Linked DNA regions of Homo sapiens: region 2 is linked to region 1. The links come from fine-mapping of genetic effects on gene expression. Tissue or cell type: monocytes after R848. Region 1 holds a variant in brackets; the other region holds the start of a gene. All regions are shown on one strand. Distances are from middle to middle.

The links. PIP is the estimated chance that this variant, and not a neighbour inherited with it, causes the effect.
Region 2: it holds the start of MMD, and the variant in region 1 is fine-mapped to the expression of MMD in monocytes after R848 (Quach 2016, PIP 0.95). The same link has a PIP of 0.9 or more in monocytes after Pam3CSK4.

The regions. Positions count from the first base shown.
Region 1 is chr17:55,442,673-55,447,192 of GRCh38, reverse strand. No RefSeq gene overlaps it. Among named protein-coding and RNA genes, the nearest start is that of MMD, 23 kb to the right of the region's middle. The variant G/A (reference allele first, on the strand shown) is at 2,122.
Region 2 is chr17:55,419,977-55,423,976 of GRCh38, reverse strand. It overlaps MMD (monocyte to macrophage differentiation associated), which reads left to right and starts at 2,142. Exons shown (of 7, transcript NM_012329.3): 1 at 2,142-2,307. The coding sequence starts at 2,282. RefSeq lists a silencer at 1,742-2,201.

The sequences.
Region 1 (4,520 bases):
GCAAAAACCTCCTATGAAGAAACCTTAGCTTCTCATGTCTACCCTGAGCTAATTTCCTGACCTGAGGTTGTTTTTCAGATGACAACTGGATGGGTGGAAAGAATGTTAACACATCACTCATTGAATATTATCTAGCCACATCCTCGTAAGTCCCTTCTGTAGATGGCCTTATCTGCTGTTTTATCCTGTGGATCTAACTCTGTTTGAACTTTGAGAATAATTAAAGAACTAAAAGAAAAATAAATAAAGCTCTGGAAGCTTACAAATAACAGCAATAACGAGAGTAAATAGAGTGATTCCCTTCAGCCAGTGTCATGGAATTTTCCAGGTCACTAGACTGTAGTGTGTAAGCTCACCATCCTTGTCTCCCATTCCTGGGTATTTGGCACAATACCTGTCCAATAGCCATATTTGGCAATGTTTTAATGAATTGAATTACAATTTGAAACTTTAACCCCAAACCTGATAGGAGAGACACTCCTTCTTTCCAGTCTCGGTACTGAATAATCTGGTCTCCAACAGAAATCACTGATCTGAGATTTTCTTGTGGTTGTTGTTTCCCTGTCTATCACCATTACATACAGAGACTAACCGTCCTTTTTCTTACCATGTCCTGGGGATCTTTATCAAAAGACCACTTAAGAAAGTTTAAGTACTGCAACCTTTCTTGGTAATAATAACAGCTAATCTTTACAGAGTGTGTACTAGTGCCAGGCAGGGCTGTTAAGACATTATATTAGCAACTCATTTAATCTCCACAGCTCTATGAGATAGTCAGTAATATTCTTCTCACTTCAGTGATGAAGAAACTGAAAAGCTTGCCCTGGATCAGACAGCAGTTGAAGCAAGCTGTCATTCCTAGTCACTTTGCCTTGCTACTCAAAATATTCCATTATATAATGGAGATTTCTCAAGCAGAGAACATGAGACCATGTCAAGAGCAATTTTTTTTTTTTTTTTTTTGAGACAGAGTCTCATTCTGTTGCCCAGGCTGGAGTCCAGTGGTGCAATCTTGGCTCACTGCAACTTCTGCCTTCTGAGTTCAAGCAATTCTTCTGCTTCAGCCTCCCAAGTAGCTGGAATTACAAGTGCACGCCATCACGCCTGCTAATTTTTGTATTTTTTAGTAGAGATGAGGTTTTGCCATGTTGGCCGGGCTGATCTCGAACTCCTGACCTCAGGTGATCCACCTGCCTCGGCCTCCCAAAGTGCTGGGATTAGAGGCATCAGCCACCGCGCCCGGCCCCAAGACCAATTCTTGACAAGCCTGCAGTGAATTACTTCATTTCCAAGAAATGCCAAAAACAGACCTGATGCAAGCTTATAATCAAAAACCCCTACCTGAATTCTAGATTATTTAGTGCTTTCGTGGTTCACACAATTCAAGCCTTCCCTTTATTACTTCTTAAATATTCATTAATGCAGTTACTGCTATTGCTGAAACTCCACCTTTTAGGAAGTTTTATAATAATAAAATGATGTCATTCCTACCAGAATATATCTCAGTTTTTGATTGAGGGGTCAGTTCATTTTGTTTTGATGGTAGGAAGGGGAAGCAGTCAAGTGGTCTGAGTATATCTAGACATTTGTTCAATCCTCTACAATTAACGACTGTGGGGCCTAAGAGACATAATTTTTACCTCTCTGGGCCCTTCTCTTGTGAAATTAAGAGTTTCACAAAATTATAAGATCTTTTCCAACTTAGACTTGCTGTAACCAGCACTCAAAATAATCGGTTTCACAACCAATCTGTTCTATTTTATTCAATTATGAATTTTTTAAAGAAAGTCTCTCAAGGCTGGGCAAATCACTTTCCTTCTAAAGTTTTATATGGTCTTACTTTAAAAGTATCCCCCATAGCTGCTCCCTGCCTTCCTTCCACCCTAGGAGTCTGTTCATCTGGTAACCAAGTGCTGAGACCCCTTGTGATCTGAGGCAGGACGTTCAGGGTTGGAGCAGGGGGACATTTGGGGAAACTTTAAAGGGTGAGTCATCCCTCAGGCCAGAAATGGTCAGGATTGGCATGCTAAGTTCAAGTCTCAACCTTCACTTCCTGAATTTCATTTTCCACCAAGAGTAGGAAATACACTCTGTAAATCTTCAACTACCTACATGTTAGCA[G/A]AAGTGAGATTGGTGAGGGGGGTGCACAAGAATTCTGCTTAAATCTGTTCAGTCTCCAAAATCATACCCAACAAAGAGTCTTTCCATCCTAAGATTAGCAAGTGACCAGGCCAGCACCTTTCCGTGGTTAAGAGGCAGGAGAATAGGGTCTGGAGATGGAGAACTTAAGGCCAATTCGTGTTGAATGAAGGAAAAACACCAAGGTTTGGGGGCAGGGAATCTGAGGCCAATTTGTGCTGACTTTCTAAAAGAGAAAACACAAAGGTCTGGGGGCAGGGAGTCTAAGGTCAATCCATGCTGACTTCCCAAAGGTGGATCAAAAGGAAAACACCTGGGTCTGGGGGCAGGGACCCTAAGGCTAATTAATGCAAACTTCATAAAGCTAAACCAAAAGGTAAAACCCCATCTCCCCAAGCCCCAGTAGCAAAGGGTCAAAGGTTACTCTCCCTACAACCCTCCTTCTTCCACCACGTCTCAGACGTAAAGGGAGAGTGCCTTGGATTGGCCTCAGGCCAAGCAGGGACAATCCCTTCATCTGCACAGAGAACCAATTCACCTCAGCCTTTAATTAGCCACGGACCAAATCCTTCATCCAGATAAGGGGTAATGGATAAGAACCTCAAAAGGCACACTTAAAACCCAGAAAACTTTGTAACCAGGCCCTTGAGCCGCTTGCTCCGGCCCACCCCCACCCTGTGGAGTGCTTTCTCGCTTTAATAAATTCCTGTTTTTGCCTCTTTGTTCCTGTGTCATCTTCGTTACTTTGCTTTGCATTTTGTCCAGTTCTTTGTTCAAAACGCCAAGAACCTGGACATCGTACACTCAAGGCCATCCTTCTGGTAACAGAGTTGACATGGATTCTAATCCTCTACCAGAATTGTTGAAACTGAGCCCTTGGTTTGATTTCCACAAGTTCCGGGCAGGCCTCGATTACCCTACATTTCAGGTGGAAGTTTGCCTGGAGGCAAATTGCGGTGCAGGCGACCCGCAGACCTGGGTAATAAGCCCAGCCGCAGAGCAGAAGGCTGTACTCCCATCTGCCTGCCCACCCTCTGCCCGTCCTCAGCATTTTCTCGCTAAAGAAAAGGTTTTTAGCAAAAGTAACTTTGCATTGTGATTGATTTTTCATCTTTATTTTACAGACAAACTAACCTAAAATAAAACACTAAAAAATATTCCCAATGGAGGCATCTCCAACCTTCTTTAGAGGGGATTTAAAGTTGCCAGTATTGTTTGTTGTCATTGTAAGTTTTTAAATTATATACAGTATACATGTCAACTTCAAGATGTAGCACTAAAACCAGAGCCTCTGGTGCAGAGGGAGTCCCTGACAACCCCCATCCAGAACATCAGCTATGGGAAATGGGGACCTGGCCATGGCAAAGCTTGGATGGGGATGTGGAAAGGCCTCCTTATACCAGCATGATAGTGCAAGGCTTGCTCAGAGGCTAACCCGCTTCTCTATCCCCATCCTCCAACCAGGACATCCTGCACTGGTTATTTCTAAATCAGGACCAAAGGCAACAAAGTGTAAACTCTACATTCCATTCCTTATGTAAGAAAGCCCTGTGAAAGTTTCCTTCCTGGCAAGAGAGAAAGTGGAGGAGCGTCAAGGAGTTGTCAGACTCCTTAAGGACTGCACATTTTAAAGGAGAATTATCCCATCTTCAATTTTCCCATGGAAAGAGCCTTCAGAAGGAGACTGATCAGGGCCATGCATCATGTCCCAATGCATCATCAGCTGCAACAAAGCAATTCTGTTTTAAATGAGGTTGGGAAGTAATGCACATTAATATCTCTCTTGCAGAGTCACGCTGTGTGTTAGCATGTTAAGGGTTCTGAGAAGAACTACTGTAAGACAACTTGTTTATGTTTAACGCAAGATTTCCAAAAGCCTTTTGACAGTCTTTGTTCTCTCTTTTATGTAACACCTATTAACATCTGTTCTGAGGAATACACATTGGGAAATGCTGGTGTAATGGAAAATCAGAAAACCTTTGAAGTCAGAAAACCAAGGTTGGAATCACCGCTTGATCCCTTGCTTGCTGTGGGGCCTTAGGAAATCGTCTTAACCTCCCTGAGTCTCTGTTTTGTCATCTTCAGAATTAAGCTAATAACTCCAACCTCATAAGGCTACTGTGAGGATGAAATAAGCAAGCTTATTGCTTGGCATCTGATAAATGGTAACTTAGTATTAACAAAAGTGACACCTTATGGAGTGGAGGTTGTAAGGCACTTCCCAGATCACGCTGCTGGAATAAAGGAAGGATTTGTTTCCCAAGCTGCTGGGAATGCTGCATGGGAAGACAGCCCTCAGCTCTCAGTCCTCTTCAGGAATTGTCTTGGCTAAAGAGAGCCAATCCGGGCCAAAGGCAAGTCCTATCTTTAGGGCAGCTGTG
Region 2 (4,000 bases), 23 kb after region 1:
TACAGGTGCCTACCACAACACCTGGCTAATTTTGTTGTTGTTGTTGTTAGAGATGAACTCTTGCTTTGGTGCTCAGGCTAGTTTCAATCTCCAGGCTTCAAGCGATCCTCCCACCTAGACCTCCCGAAGTGTTGGGATTACAGGTGCAAACCACTGTGCCTGGCCCTTTAAAAAAAAAAAAAAAAAGACTTTTTTTTTTCCAGAGAAGTTTTAGGATCACTCAAAAATTGAGAGTAAAGTACAGGGATTTCCCACACATACATAGCCTCTCCTGTTATCAAAATCCCCCAACAGTGTGGTACATCTGTTACAATTGAGCTTCCTTGTTTTATTTTTTAACCCTTCTTATGTTATTACACATGGCTATTTTTCATCTATCTTTATTAGCTATCTCCTTTGTTACCTTCCCCTCCCGCACTGATGTTTTAGCCCAGTGGCCCAACATAGCTGATAAGAAGCAGACTTTCATTCCAGGTTCATTTTCCCGATTTAGTGTTGAGGGTGCGGGTAGATGAAGTTTTGTTTTGTTTGTTTTGTTTTAGAGAAGTGTATTGCTTTAAAACAGGGAGAGATAGTCTGACGTACTGAAAGGAGGTGGGTCTTTAAAGTTAGCGAAAGGTAGGTAGGAGCCTTACTTTTGCCTTTGGCAAGTTTATTGACCACTATAAGCCTCAGCCTTATCTGTAAAATAAGTTGGATAATGCCCATCTGGAGGAGCTCTTGGGAAGATTGAAGCATGGAAAGCACCTCTCTGGAAGGTTCAAGGAAAGGGAACTAGAATTATGGGTGACAGAATTCCCTGGCTTTCCAATGCTTTACTGTAGGTCGAATGAGCACTCCTAGCAGGCTGGCCTCATGCCACTTCAGAGTCTCTAGCCTGCAGGCTGGGGGCTGGGTATGGACACGATACCTGGAAGGGAACACATATAACTTCCATCAGTGATCCTGGAAAGGCTCGACAAATCACCCATTCATTCATTCTGTGTGTATGTGTGTGTGTGTGAGAGAGAGAGAGAGAGACAGAGTCTCACTCTGTCACCCAGGCTGGAATGCAGTGGTGCAATCTCGGCTCACTGCAACCTCTATCTCCCAAGTTCAAGTGATTCTCCCATCTCAGCCCCCCGAGTAGCTGGGATTACAGGAGCCCGCCACCACTCCCGGCTAATTTTTGTATTTTTAGTAGAGACAAGGTTTCACCAAGTTGGCCAGGCTGGTCTCGAACTCCTGACCTCAGGTGATCCGCCCACCTTGGCTTCCCAAAGTGCTGGGATTACAGGCATGAACCACAGCACCTGGCCCATTCATTCATTTTTATTTGAACTTCTCTTCCAGGAAGCCCTCTGAGTTTAGGTTTAGCGACAGGACCCTGATTCAAGTCAACTCGTTTATTTGAAAGCTGCCTGGATAAAAATAAAATAAAATAAAAAATAAACTGGAGGATAACATAAAAGGATCCTTGCAGAGGATTCCTCCTTTTGTGGATCTCACTGAATCTCAGAGTTAGAAGACGCTCAGAGATCTCAACTCCCTCAAGGGTCAGACAAGGACAGGTTTTTCATTCTGCCCTGGATCCTCTCACAATAGCCTCGCGGGAGCTGGCCCTCAAAATGATGAAGGAATAAATGAAAGGAGGGATGGAGAAATTAATGATGAAGAAAAAATGAATGAGGTAGGGCTGCTTGTTTGCTGCTATTTTCTTCACAATGCTTTTAAGATTTCCTGGTCCATCTCCTCCTTCACCACTTCTCTCCCTCCCTCGATCTCTTCTCCAACTTGTCTCTTACAGAAGGGCGCCGCGTTCCCGCGCTCCTCCCCTTCCCCTCGCCCCGCCCCTCCCCAGCGAGGCCCCGCCTCGCTGCCCGAGCCCGGCGGGAATGAATGGCAGCGTAGCCGCCGCGCCGCTCGGGGTGCCGATTGGCTGACCGGCGCGCTGACGCGCCGGCGACCGCGGGTGCACGCAGGCGAACAGAGCCGGCGGGGGCGGAGCCGGGCTCCGGGGCGGGGCGCAGGAGCCCCGGGGCGGAGGAGCCGGGGAGGCGGGAGGCGGGAGGCGGGAGGTGTTGGGGCCGTTGAAGCGGCCTCCCTCCCGCCCCCAGCCGCCCGGTCTGGCCCCAGCCCTGTCCCGACCCCCGGCCTGGCCCACTCCGACCCTACCCGGCCGAAGGGTTCCGCTGGACACGCAGGCGGCCTCCGGAGCAGCCCAAGCCCATGAGGGCCGCGCGCCCGGCCGCCGGTGCTGACGAGACGGAGCTCCTGGCCCCCGAGGAGGAGCAGAGGATCAATGCGGTTCAAGAATCGATTCCAGCGGTGAGAGGGATGGCGTCCCGGTCCCGCTGCCCGTGTCAGAAGCGGGTTCCCAAATCCCGCCGTTAAGCGCACGGCTCCCGGCTCCTCACCTGGATTCATCCTGGGTGGATCCCGCACCTTGGCCAGGGATCAGTTCCCTGGGGATTCCCCACCCTGCTGTCCCTGGGCGATCCCCTTCCTCCAAGGATGGGAGCTCCTGCCTCACCCGGGTCTCCCCTCGCGATCTGCGGACCTCAGATGGATTCCCGGCCCCGGGACTCCAAGCCTGTCCTCCTTCCCGGGGATCCCTTTGCTCCTGGGGCTCACCCTCCCGACCCCCATACAGGCTGGGCTCTGGCTCTCTCTGGGAACCCGAACCCCAGCCCCGGGCACCGCCCCCGAGTCCTCCGACCTGGCTTTGGCCTCCATCCCTTTACCTCCAGGGTGGGGGTCTCCCGGGGCGCGCGGAACGGGGTGGCGCCCTGCGGAGAGATTTGTCGTAAAGCGGGGTGCTAGGCATTTTGGGTGCTTTGTGAACGGCCCTAGCAACAGGGAAACTGAGGCACGCTCCGCCAGCTTAGCCCTGCCTGGCCGTGTAGGGGCCTTGCTGGTTCTCCAGCTGAACGTCCCAGGGCGGTGCTATTTTTGGGCTCTGCGAAGGGGCATGTTAGCTTTCGGGTGGCGAGACCTGCTGTGGAGGCGCCGGTGTTAGGAAACGAGGAGGAGGAACCGTGGAGGCGCCACCGGAAGGCTGGCCGACTGCTCATTCACTGTAGAGCTGGTGGAAATGCCGGGCTGGGGGGCGCCGTGGCCTTACTCCCCTCTGGGGCTCCACCGTCTAACAATGGATGGAGGTTAGCCCATGACTCTGAGAGGAACTCCGGGCTTTTCTTTTCTGTTTAAGTGGGTGAAAGTTCACCTCTCCAGGGCATATGGTAACTGCATCCCTTTGTGTGAATTCCCGGACCTTCACCACCAGCATGTTTGCTGGGGGTGCAGTGACAGGGGAAATTTTAAGAAATGCATGAAATCTTCCAAGAAGGTTGTTGAGTTTTTAGACACTACCTTTTATTTCAGAATTTTAAAGTACACATTTTTTTTTTCTTTCCAATCTCCATGCCCTCACTGCCCTCTCACCCATCTCATTCCTCCCCCAGTCCCAAAGGGTAAAGGAGGCAACAAATGCACAGAAGAGTTGCCATGGTCTGGGCCACCAGGAAGGGGATCAGCTTGAAGACTTGGATTGACTTCTGAATATATTGCTTATCAGTCAGGGTGTTGAATGCTTGGCACTGTTCCCCCAGTGGAACTTCATACCGGTGTGTCTAAGGGCAAAATGGAACCGTAGTGTTCTGACTTTAGAACCTGATGTCAGAAATGAAGACCGGAGGGGCTTTTAGAGAGAATGTAACATGCACTCCAGTCATGATCAGTGAAGCCCTGTGCATGCGGTTTGATTTGGTTTTACTTCTCTACACGTCTGTGCTCTTCCTGTTTTCAGAGAACAGTGGCAATATTCTGTGAAATTGCCCCTTCCTTGTTTGATTAAGAGTTTGTCATTCTTACCTATACCTTTGGATCCTCTAAAAAGAAAAAAAACAAACAAACCCTGTTCAATTATTTGTTGCACAAACGTTAAAACTGTTAAAACAACAACAACAACAACTTCATTTAGGATGCTACCCTCTCAGCTTATTGAACTGACTTTTTAATT